2 linked regions of the Homo sapiens genome follow. The protein of the gene in region 1 purifies or fractionates together with the protein of each later gene. This does not show direct contact. Each region holds a gene or a part of one and is shown on either strand. Other genes may lie near its edges.

Region 1 (4,281 bases):
AATCAGGGTAATTAGGATATCCCTCTCCTTAAACATTTATGATTTCCTTGTGATAAGAACAGTCTTTCAATATTTCTTGTTTATGTATTTTGAATGTGTTCTTGTAAAATACACCGTGTGTTTTATTCCCTTGCTTTCAGACCATGATCTATCTTCTTTTTCTCAGACCTGTGATTTTTTAAAATTACCCAAAACACACATTTTCAGTTGCAATTTACAAAAAAGAGATAACTAATGTTCAATTACACATGAAATTAAGAAAATTAAGCAAAAAGATAATTAGTACACATAAATGGTATAGAGAATTAAAGTCTGGGGTTTCATAAAATTTCATTTTACTAATAATTTGATTACCATTCATTCAAAATCTGACATGTAATCACAGGTCGAATCTACTGTTCCCTAATTCCTCAAAAATCTAAAATTGGCCCAGGCTGCGCCAAGGGCCTGGGGACTGCAGAACCCTTCAGGGAGATGATGTGCTTCACCACTTCCTGCCTGCCATTTGATCTTCCCATGTTCCTAAACCTTTAATATTTCAAAGAATTCTTATTTCCTTCAATCCCTCTTCTTATTTGTACACAGGATGTAAAAGAGCTAATGACACCTGTTGTAATGAGCTCTCTGCAGGAGTGTCCTATGAATCTGACGGATGTGAATTCTGGGGGTAACTATGGAGTTCTAGTGACTACACAGAGACAAAGTAGGTGCATCTGCCATGTTTTTTCCTTCCAGGTACTTTTTTTTTTTTTTCTCAGAAATGTTGTTTGGAGTTGAGCACTTGATTTCAGGTCTAAAAATAATTTGTATTTTCTCTCTTTAAGATGAAAAGATCTAAGCAGATCAATGCCCTGAACTAGATAACCTTCTCCAAATTTTATATAATGTAGCATGCTGTGTGGGTAGCTCTCTTTGCTGTTAGCTGGAATCTGTTCTGGCAATGGATATGTATGCTCATTTTAATATTAGGCAAAGGCCAATGGTATATCCCACTGAGAAAGTAAACATAAAAGAAATGATGCTACACACACACACACACACACACACACACACACACACACATATATATATATTTTTTTTGAGACGGAGTGTCGCACTATCAATCACCTGGGCTTGGGGTGCAGTGGCAGGATCTCGGCTCATTGCAACCTCCACCTCCCAGGTTCAAGCAATTCTCCTGCCTCAGCCTCCCAAGTAGCTGGAATTACAGGCACCTGCCACCACGCCCAGCTAATTTTTTTGTATTTTTAATAGAGACGGGGTTTCACCATGTTGGCCAGGCTGGTCTCGAACTCCTGACCTCATGATTCGCCCACCTTGGCCTCCCAAAGTGCTGGGATTACAGGCGTGAGCCACCATGCCTGGCCAAAATGATGCTATGCTATAAAACTAAATAATTTGAAAATTCTTTTATTTAAACAAATCATATCTGTGGTTATACCCTGCCATTGATTAGAAACAATGTAATACAGAGAAGCTTGTAACAGCTAAAAAAAGAAAAAAAAGCAGTTTCATCTGTTTCAATAAATTTTTATTGAGCACCTATGTTGTCCTAGTGTTGGGAACAGAATAGAAAAGGCAGATAAAAAAATCCCTGCCCTGATGGAGTTACATTCTAGTCCTTGAGACTAAAGGTCAGACAGCAGCAAAAAAAAAGGTATACATTATAATACCTTTAGTCTGTAGAAAAACTGTTGCAACAATATTCATTGAAGCAGTTTTTAGCTAAATAATGTATCAGGTTACATGGTGATTTGACGTCTTGTTCCCTAGGTAAAGGAATGACCATGGTAACCCCAAAGCGAGAAATATTAAGAACACGAGTCAGTCACTCAAACATTTTCTAAGTGCTGACACTGAAGATATAGAAAGCAAGATATAAGGCAAGCTCTACCCTCCAGCTGCTTACAGTCTAGTGAAGGAGACAGATGAATGATATTCACACACACACACACCCCCACACACCCACCCACACACACACCATTGGGAACATGGAGAGTCTGGAGGAAATGGTGGAGTTTGGGCATAGTGAATCAGGAAAGGTGTTCCGAAAAAAAGTTAAACCTAAACTGAATCTAAAGGAATAAATGTGTAGGTACAGTCAGGTAAAACAGGGAAAAGTACGGTGTATTAGAAAAACTATTAGGAGTAAGCAAAAGACAACAGTGTGTAAACTAGAAAATGATGGTGAACGTGTGGAAATGTATGATTTGCGTTGGATAACTAGTAGAAGGGACAGGAGAGGCAAGAAGGGGCCAGATCTATCAAAAGTTTAATAATTTGCATTTTAGGAAGATAATTTTCCATCATTATGGTGGGTAGCTTTTGAGCAAGATGAATGAAAGTGGAGGAACGAAATTTGAGGCCACTGCAATAGTCAAAATAACAACAAAAAAAAAGGTCTAAAGTAGAATGGTTGTAATTATAAGAATGTGAAATATATTGGTGAGGCACAGTTGATAGAGAATGAATAACTGTATCTGGGGCAATGGGTGAACGCTGAAAATTGGCATTGACATAAAAACTTGTTACCTTATCTTCACAGTACCACACTCTTATAACTATATATAACTATATAAACCATATGTAATTTCATTCCTTAGCCAGGAGTCCCTTTTACTTGATAGCTCAGGGGACCATTAACACATATGTGTTTTGCTGCATATAAAGAAGTAAATGTCTATTTGGATACTCCTGGATTATACACTTTACCATCTATGGTCAACTTTTTACCCTTTATCTACATTACCATCACTTGGCCATTATACAACAGCAGCTCTGTGTAAGCAGAGTAAATGCAAGAAAAAATATACTTTCACATTGGAATGTTTGGCCCACACAAAAATCTAAATACGCAGGCCAAGTTTTGTTATGCTAAATCAATTCAATGAGGGTTTAAGAAATAGGTATCTTACAATCTCCAGGTAGCAAAAACAAAATTCCAGTGGGTGGTCCAATAACACAAACAGAAAGCATCATATTCAAATAGAGCTAAAGAATATCAATAGCCCCTAGACACCTTTATTGAAATGGAATCTGATTGCTAACCATGAAAATAAAACAATCTCATTCCCATTAAGAATTTTTTTAAGTGAGGATTTTATTATTAAGCAGTACCTATAATTGATATTGTAAATTTCACAAGTAGAAATCTTGAGGTGGCTCATAGTCAATGCATGTATTGTTTTTGAATTGCCTTGATTTTAACACCCTGTGGTAGGAATAATTTGCTTTCTACTTAGGAGGACTGCTTTCTGTTTCCCATTTGTAAGAGGCTTTAAGAAAAGCATAAACTCAAGTCCTAAAGCAGGCTGAGGCAACCATATCCTTAGAACACTTCTCACCACAGCGTGATTCTTCACATAGCAGGGCTTGCACACGGGCTTGTCATTGACCATCACGTATATCTCCCCAGCTAGAATGCTATCACAGTCAAAGCAGCAGAAGTGTTTCAGGTGCCAATTCTGGTTTTCTGCCTGGGTATACTCATTGCTGAATATCAGCTAGGAAGAAGATAAAAATAAAGATGGATTTTTATATAATAAGAGATTTATATCTGTAACAACATACTTTCTCAGGGTCTAAAGTTTGAAAATGATAACCTAAAGCTTGAACTTATGCTATCACTTAGTTTAGTCTAAATCAATCTTTTATATTTCTAGTCTTTCATTTGTCAACCCAATTAACACAGACAGAATGAATGATATCAGAAGTTTATTTTTTAAAACTTCTTTGGATGTAAACAGAGCAACTGCTGTTTGGTCAAGTCTTGTTGCCTTCTAGGTAAAGGGACCATATGAGGGTCTAAGAGGGCACCAGCATGCCGGTGGTCCCATAGAACATACCTCGTCACAGCCAGCACATCGGGGTTTCTCGCTGTCACAGTAATGTCTGCCACAGTATAGCTTCTCATTCTTCCAAAAATAAATCATGTCAACCAGGAGTTCATGGCAGGTGCTGCAGACAAAACAAGCTGGGTGCCACAGTTTATCATAGCCAGCCCTTTCGGCATAGATGGCTGGGTCACCTTCTTTCATACTCAGTTTGCAGCAATAGCAGGACTGAAAGGGAAGCCATCCAGAACAACCTAGTCATTAGAAGACTGCCATTTCTTTTCTTTCTTTCTTTTTTTTTTTTTGAGACTGAGTCTCACTCTGTCGCCCAGGCTGGAGTCCAGTGGTGCTATCTCGGCTCATTGCAAGCTCCGCCTCCTGGGTTCACGCCGTTCTCCTGCCTCAGCCTCCCGAGTAGCTGGGACTACAGGCGCCTGCCACCACGCCC
Region 2 (4,281 bases), on another chromosome or scaffold:
ACCTGGGGAGCAAAGCAGAGGATCAGTCCCAAGTCCTGCATCCAGCCCCCACCCTCACACCATGCTGGGCCTTCCCTACCTTAGAGCGAAAGGGTTCGGGGAACCCCCCATGGGGGACACCGATGTAGCCCTGCAGGAACTCCACCACGGAGCGGGGAAAGGACAGCTCTTCCGCCTGAGCTTCGGCCTCTGCCCGGCTCAATCCATTCTGCACCATAAACTGGGCCAGGTCCCCCACGATCTTGGAGGAGGGCGTCACCTGAGGAGAAGGCCCTGGAGGTTAGGGTGCCAGGCACCTCAAGGAGGCCAGTGGCAGGTGCATGCAGGGCTGGGTCAGGTAAGGAGCACCGGGCCGGGCTCACCTTGATGAGATCGCCCAGCATCTGGTTGGCCTCCACATAGGCCTTCTTGACCTCCTTGAACTTGGAGCCAAGCCCCATGCTGTGGGCCTGGAAGTGCAGGTTGGTGTACTGGCCCCCTGGGATCTCATTTTCATACACGTCCGAGTTGCCAGACTTCATGGTGGCCGTGCAGTCGAAGGCCGCGTACAGTCCCCGAGCCCCCTCCCAGTACTCACTGTAGTCAAACACGCGCTCCATGGGCACCTCTGCAGGGAGGCCAGAGTCAGAGGAGGCCTTAGAAATGTGTGACTCTTCCAGGACCCAGGGCTAGCTCAGGTCCCATGTCTGACTCAGGTGACAGAAGGCGGCAAGGCCAGAGCAGGGCATCTGGATCCTAGGCAGGTCCAACACTACTGGGACTGGTGGTGGCTGCGGCTTTGAGAGGGGTGTGGCCACGGGCTGCTGTTCTTCCTACCTGTGTCCAGGGGAGTCCCTCTGGTACAGGCCACCAGGGCCCCCATGCTGGGCTGTGAAGTCATCCCAGACATGGAATCAGCTGCCACATCCACCACATCAGCTCCAGCCTGGGCACAGGCCAGCATGGCTGCCACGCCTGCCCCTGACGTGTCGTGGGTGTGGATGTGCAGTGGGAGGTCGGGGAAGCGGTCCCGGAGGGAGCTGACCAGCATGGTGCAGGCCGTGGGCTTCAGCAGCCCGGCCATGTCCTGGGGGAAGTGGGAGAGAGAGAGAGAGAGATGGTAGAGAGGGCAGGATGTGTGCCTGTGGGTGGCGGGGACATGGCCGGGGCAGAGAGGGAGGGACGGACAAGTGGCCCAGGCACCTTGATGCACAGGATGTGGGTGCCAGCTCGCACCAGCTCTTCGGCCAAGCCCATGTAGTACTGCAGTGAGTACTTGGTGCGGCTGGGGTCGGCCACGTCGCCCGTGTATGAGATGGCAGCCTCCACCACGCCTCCGGCACTTCCTGCCGCCTCCATGCCCAGCAGCATGTTGGGCAAGTAGTTGAGGGAGTCAAACACACGGAAGACATCCATGCCATTCTCTTTGGCCACTTCACAGAACCTGCAAGGGTGAGAGAGCCCAGGGCTGAGCCCCACCCCACCTCCCTCTGAACAGTCTTCCCTGGCTCCTTCCTGACCCACTCTATGGCCCCTGGGGAATGAGATCTGAGGGTCTCGCCTGGCAGGGGGTGTGGCATCCACAGGCGGGGGGTGGCCACACAAGTGTGGACCAGGCCCTGGAGGATCAGCTAGGCCAGTGGCAGGCTGTGGAAGAGGGTACTGAGCAAGGAGTCTTGAGGCCTGGGTTCCAATCCCAGCCCTGCACCGAGTGACCCAGGCAAGTCTCAGACCTTCCACTGCCCCAGGAGTGAGGGAGTGATTTAGAAGCCTGTCTGGTTCTGCAACTCCAATTTTACACTTCTCGATATTTCCAAACAGCAGCCCCTGCTGCGTGTGGCCACAGAGAGACTTGGTGTCAGGCTGACCGTGGAGAACAGAGGCCATCACGACATGGCTCGGTACCCTCTGGGCCACACCAGGTAGCGTCTGCCCACCCCACCCCAGGCTCACTTGAAGACCACGTTGTCTGGGTAGTTGGTGTAGCCCACAGCATTGGCCCCCCGCAGCAGCATCTGGAAAGGGATGTTGGGGATGAGCTCCCGGAGCTCCTGCAGCCGCCGCCAGGGGCACTCATACAGGAAGCGCATGGCGACGTCAAACGTGGCTCCTGCACAGGAACCGAGAGGCCCAGATCAGCTCTGCATGCCTGGGGAACTCCACCAGGCCTTGGAGCTAGCTCTGCAGCACAAGCCTCTGGCCCCAATACCAGGTCCTGCTCATCTTCGCCATACCTGTGTTCCCTGCTCCAACCCCCACAGATTTTTCCCTTGTCTGATCTCTAAGGGGGAGACCAGGCTCATTTGTGTCCCTTCTATGCCCCCTTTATAATCCCATCTTCTCCTCTACCTCTCTGTGCTATAATTAACAGGCAGGTGTCTCCTCCTGACCCTGGACCTCCCAGGATGCACCTGGTCTCAGCTCTGCAACCTCGTGCCGGCACCAGGCCTGGCCGGAGAGGGCGCTGTGCCTTCTTCGGTCCTTCCTCTTTGGTGTTCTTCGTGTCAGCGTCTCTAGCTTGTCCCCAGTGGCCTAAGCCTGTGGGACTGGCCACAGAGCGGGCGCCCATTCCTACCAGGCGCTGCGCAGCATGCCAGCCTACCTCCCCAGTTCTCCATGCTGAAGAGCTTGCTGAAGTTGTGGGCAACATAGGGGGCGATCTTTTTGAGATCGTGGGTGCGCACACGAGTGGCCAGCAGTGACTGGTGGGCGTCCCTGAAGGTCGTGTCCATCAGCAGCAGCCCCGGGTGGTTCCGCACAGCTCGAGCAAAGCCCTCAGGCCCCTCTCGCAGCAGGATGTCTCTGAAACCAGCCGGGGGCGGGCCTAGGGTAGACAGGGGCATTGGTGCCCATCCTGCAGGTGGCAACCTCCTGTCTCCCCCATGAGTTGACAGAATGGATCTCACCTACCTATGGGCACTGCAGGGACAACGGGGTCCGTGGGGCTGGGGCTGGCCTTGACGGGAATCGGGGTGGTTGGACCGTTTACCATGACATGGCCTGGGGAGAAAGCGGGCAGTGGGTCAGGGTGGGCTGGGCAGAGGCTGAGTCGAGGGCAGCAGTGAGAGTGGCTGGGCTCAGGGACAGGGACACATCCCTCCAGGATCCCCGGGCTTCCAGCTGGCCCCTGTCCTCTCCAAAGCCAGGGCCTCCTGGGTACAGGCAGTGGGGACGTCTTGAGGACCACGTGGATGGAAAGGTGGGGTCTCTCAGATCAGAAGCAAGGAGAGCAGTGAATGGCAGGGTGCAGGACAAGAGGACGCAGGGCCAGAATGAGGGCAGGGGTGAGGGGCAGGGGGCACTAAGGAGTTCTTTGGTCATGGGGAGTGGCAAGGAGGTAGGAGCAAGAGATTGGAGAGCGGAGGGGAGGGGAGGGCAGGGCAGGGCAGTCTCGGGCCAGACCGAGGTAGTGCAACAGCTTTTGGGCCCGGTTCTGTGCAGGCCGCAGCTGGAACAGCTCTGGGTTCTCGTCGATGAACTGGGTGTCCACAGTGCCTGCCAGGAACTGCTGGTTGTTGAGCACATTCTGCAGGAAGGCGATGTTGGTCTGCAGGACAGAGGCGGGTGGGAGGGGGTCACCATGCAGCACAGACAGGGAAGGCAGAGGAGAAAAGGCTGAAAGAGAAAAGGCTGAAGATGCTGCCCTGGGCCAGCACAGCTTCTGGGCCTCCCTGCAGAGGGGCACTTCCCCGTCCCTCAGCCCTCTCCTCACTCCAGCAGAGCCCCCTAAGCTGTCACGGGCTGGGCCTGCTCCCTCCATACTTGTTTACACCAAAGCATGTGCTGAAGGCCACCCTTCCTGCCTCCCCGCAGCCTAGAACAGGGCTCAGCCTTTTTCTCCAGCAGCGTGGCCCACAGCAGTCACCCTTGCCCCTCGTCCACGCTTCTCGAAAGAGGGCCTTGACCGCAACAGACCACACTCTGGCACTCTAAGTCACTCCTCCCAGCTGAGTCCAGCGGGCATGCTCCCGCCTTGCTGCTCGTTCCCTGGGCTTCCAAGCCATCTTGCTCTCCTGTCCTCTTCCTCCCCAGCTCCTCACACACCACATGCTCCCCAGGAGGCCCCGTCCCGGGGCTGTGGCGCCAGTGACAGGCTCTGCCTCCAGGGCAAGACCCAGAGGTGCAACTGCCTCCCGGGCCTTTCCTTGTTCACCCCTCGCATAAGTTCAGCAAGTCCACGGCCAGCTTCCTGCCTATGCACCCAGTCCTCCTGTGCCCAGTGGGTGCCCCACTGTCCCCCCAGTTACCAAAACCTGCATCCCATCACCCTCATCACCCACTCCTCCCATGCCACTGGTCAAG

What was found. The genes of interacting proteins can lie anywhere in the genome.
Region 2: the proteins of TES (region 1) and PC purify together in Homo sapiens (affinity purification with mass spectrometry, with the first as the bait; one large-scale study listed by BioGRID). This does not show direct contact.

The regions. Positions count from the first base shown.
Region 1 is NC_000007.14:116,251,540-116,255,820, reverse strand, and holds part of TES (testin), read right to left. Parts: intron 4,062-4,281; coding exon 3,846-4,061; intron 3,504-3,845; coding exon 3,345-3,503; intron 704-3,344; exon of another isoform or gene 1-703. UniProt on the Homo sapiens protein: Scaffold protein that may play a role in cell adhesion, cell spreading and in the reorganization of the actin cytoskeleton. Plays a role in the regulation of cell proliferation. May act as a tumor suppressor. Inhibits tumor cell growth.
Region 2 is NC_000011.10:66,849,858-66,854,138, forward strand, and holds part of PC (pyruvate carboxylase, mitochondrial precursor), read right to left. Parts: intron 3,527-4,281; coding exon 3,382-3,526; intron 2,980-3,381; coding exon 2,890-2,979; intron 2,804-2,889; coding exon 2,582-2,803; intron 2,090-2,581; coding exon 1,933-2,089; intron 1,424-1,932; coding exon 1,183-1,423; intron 1,067-1,182; coding exon 817-1,066; intron 608-816; coding exon 363-607; intron 260-362; coding exon 80-259; intron 3-79; coding exon 1-2. UniProt on the Homo sapiens protein: Pyruvate carboxylase catalyzes a 2-step reaction, involving the ATP-dependent carboxylation of the covalently attached biotin in the first step and the transfer of the carboxyl group to pyruvate in the second.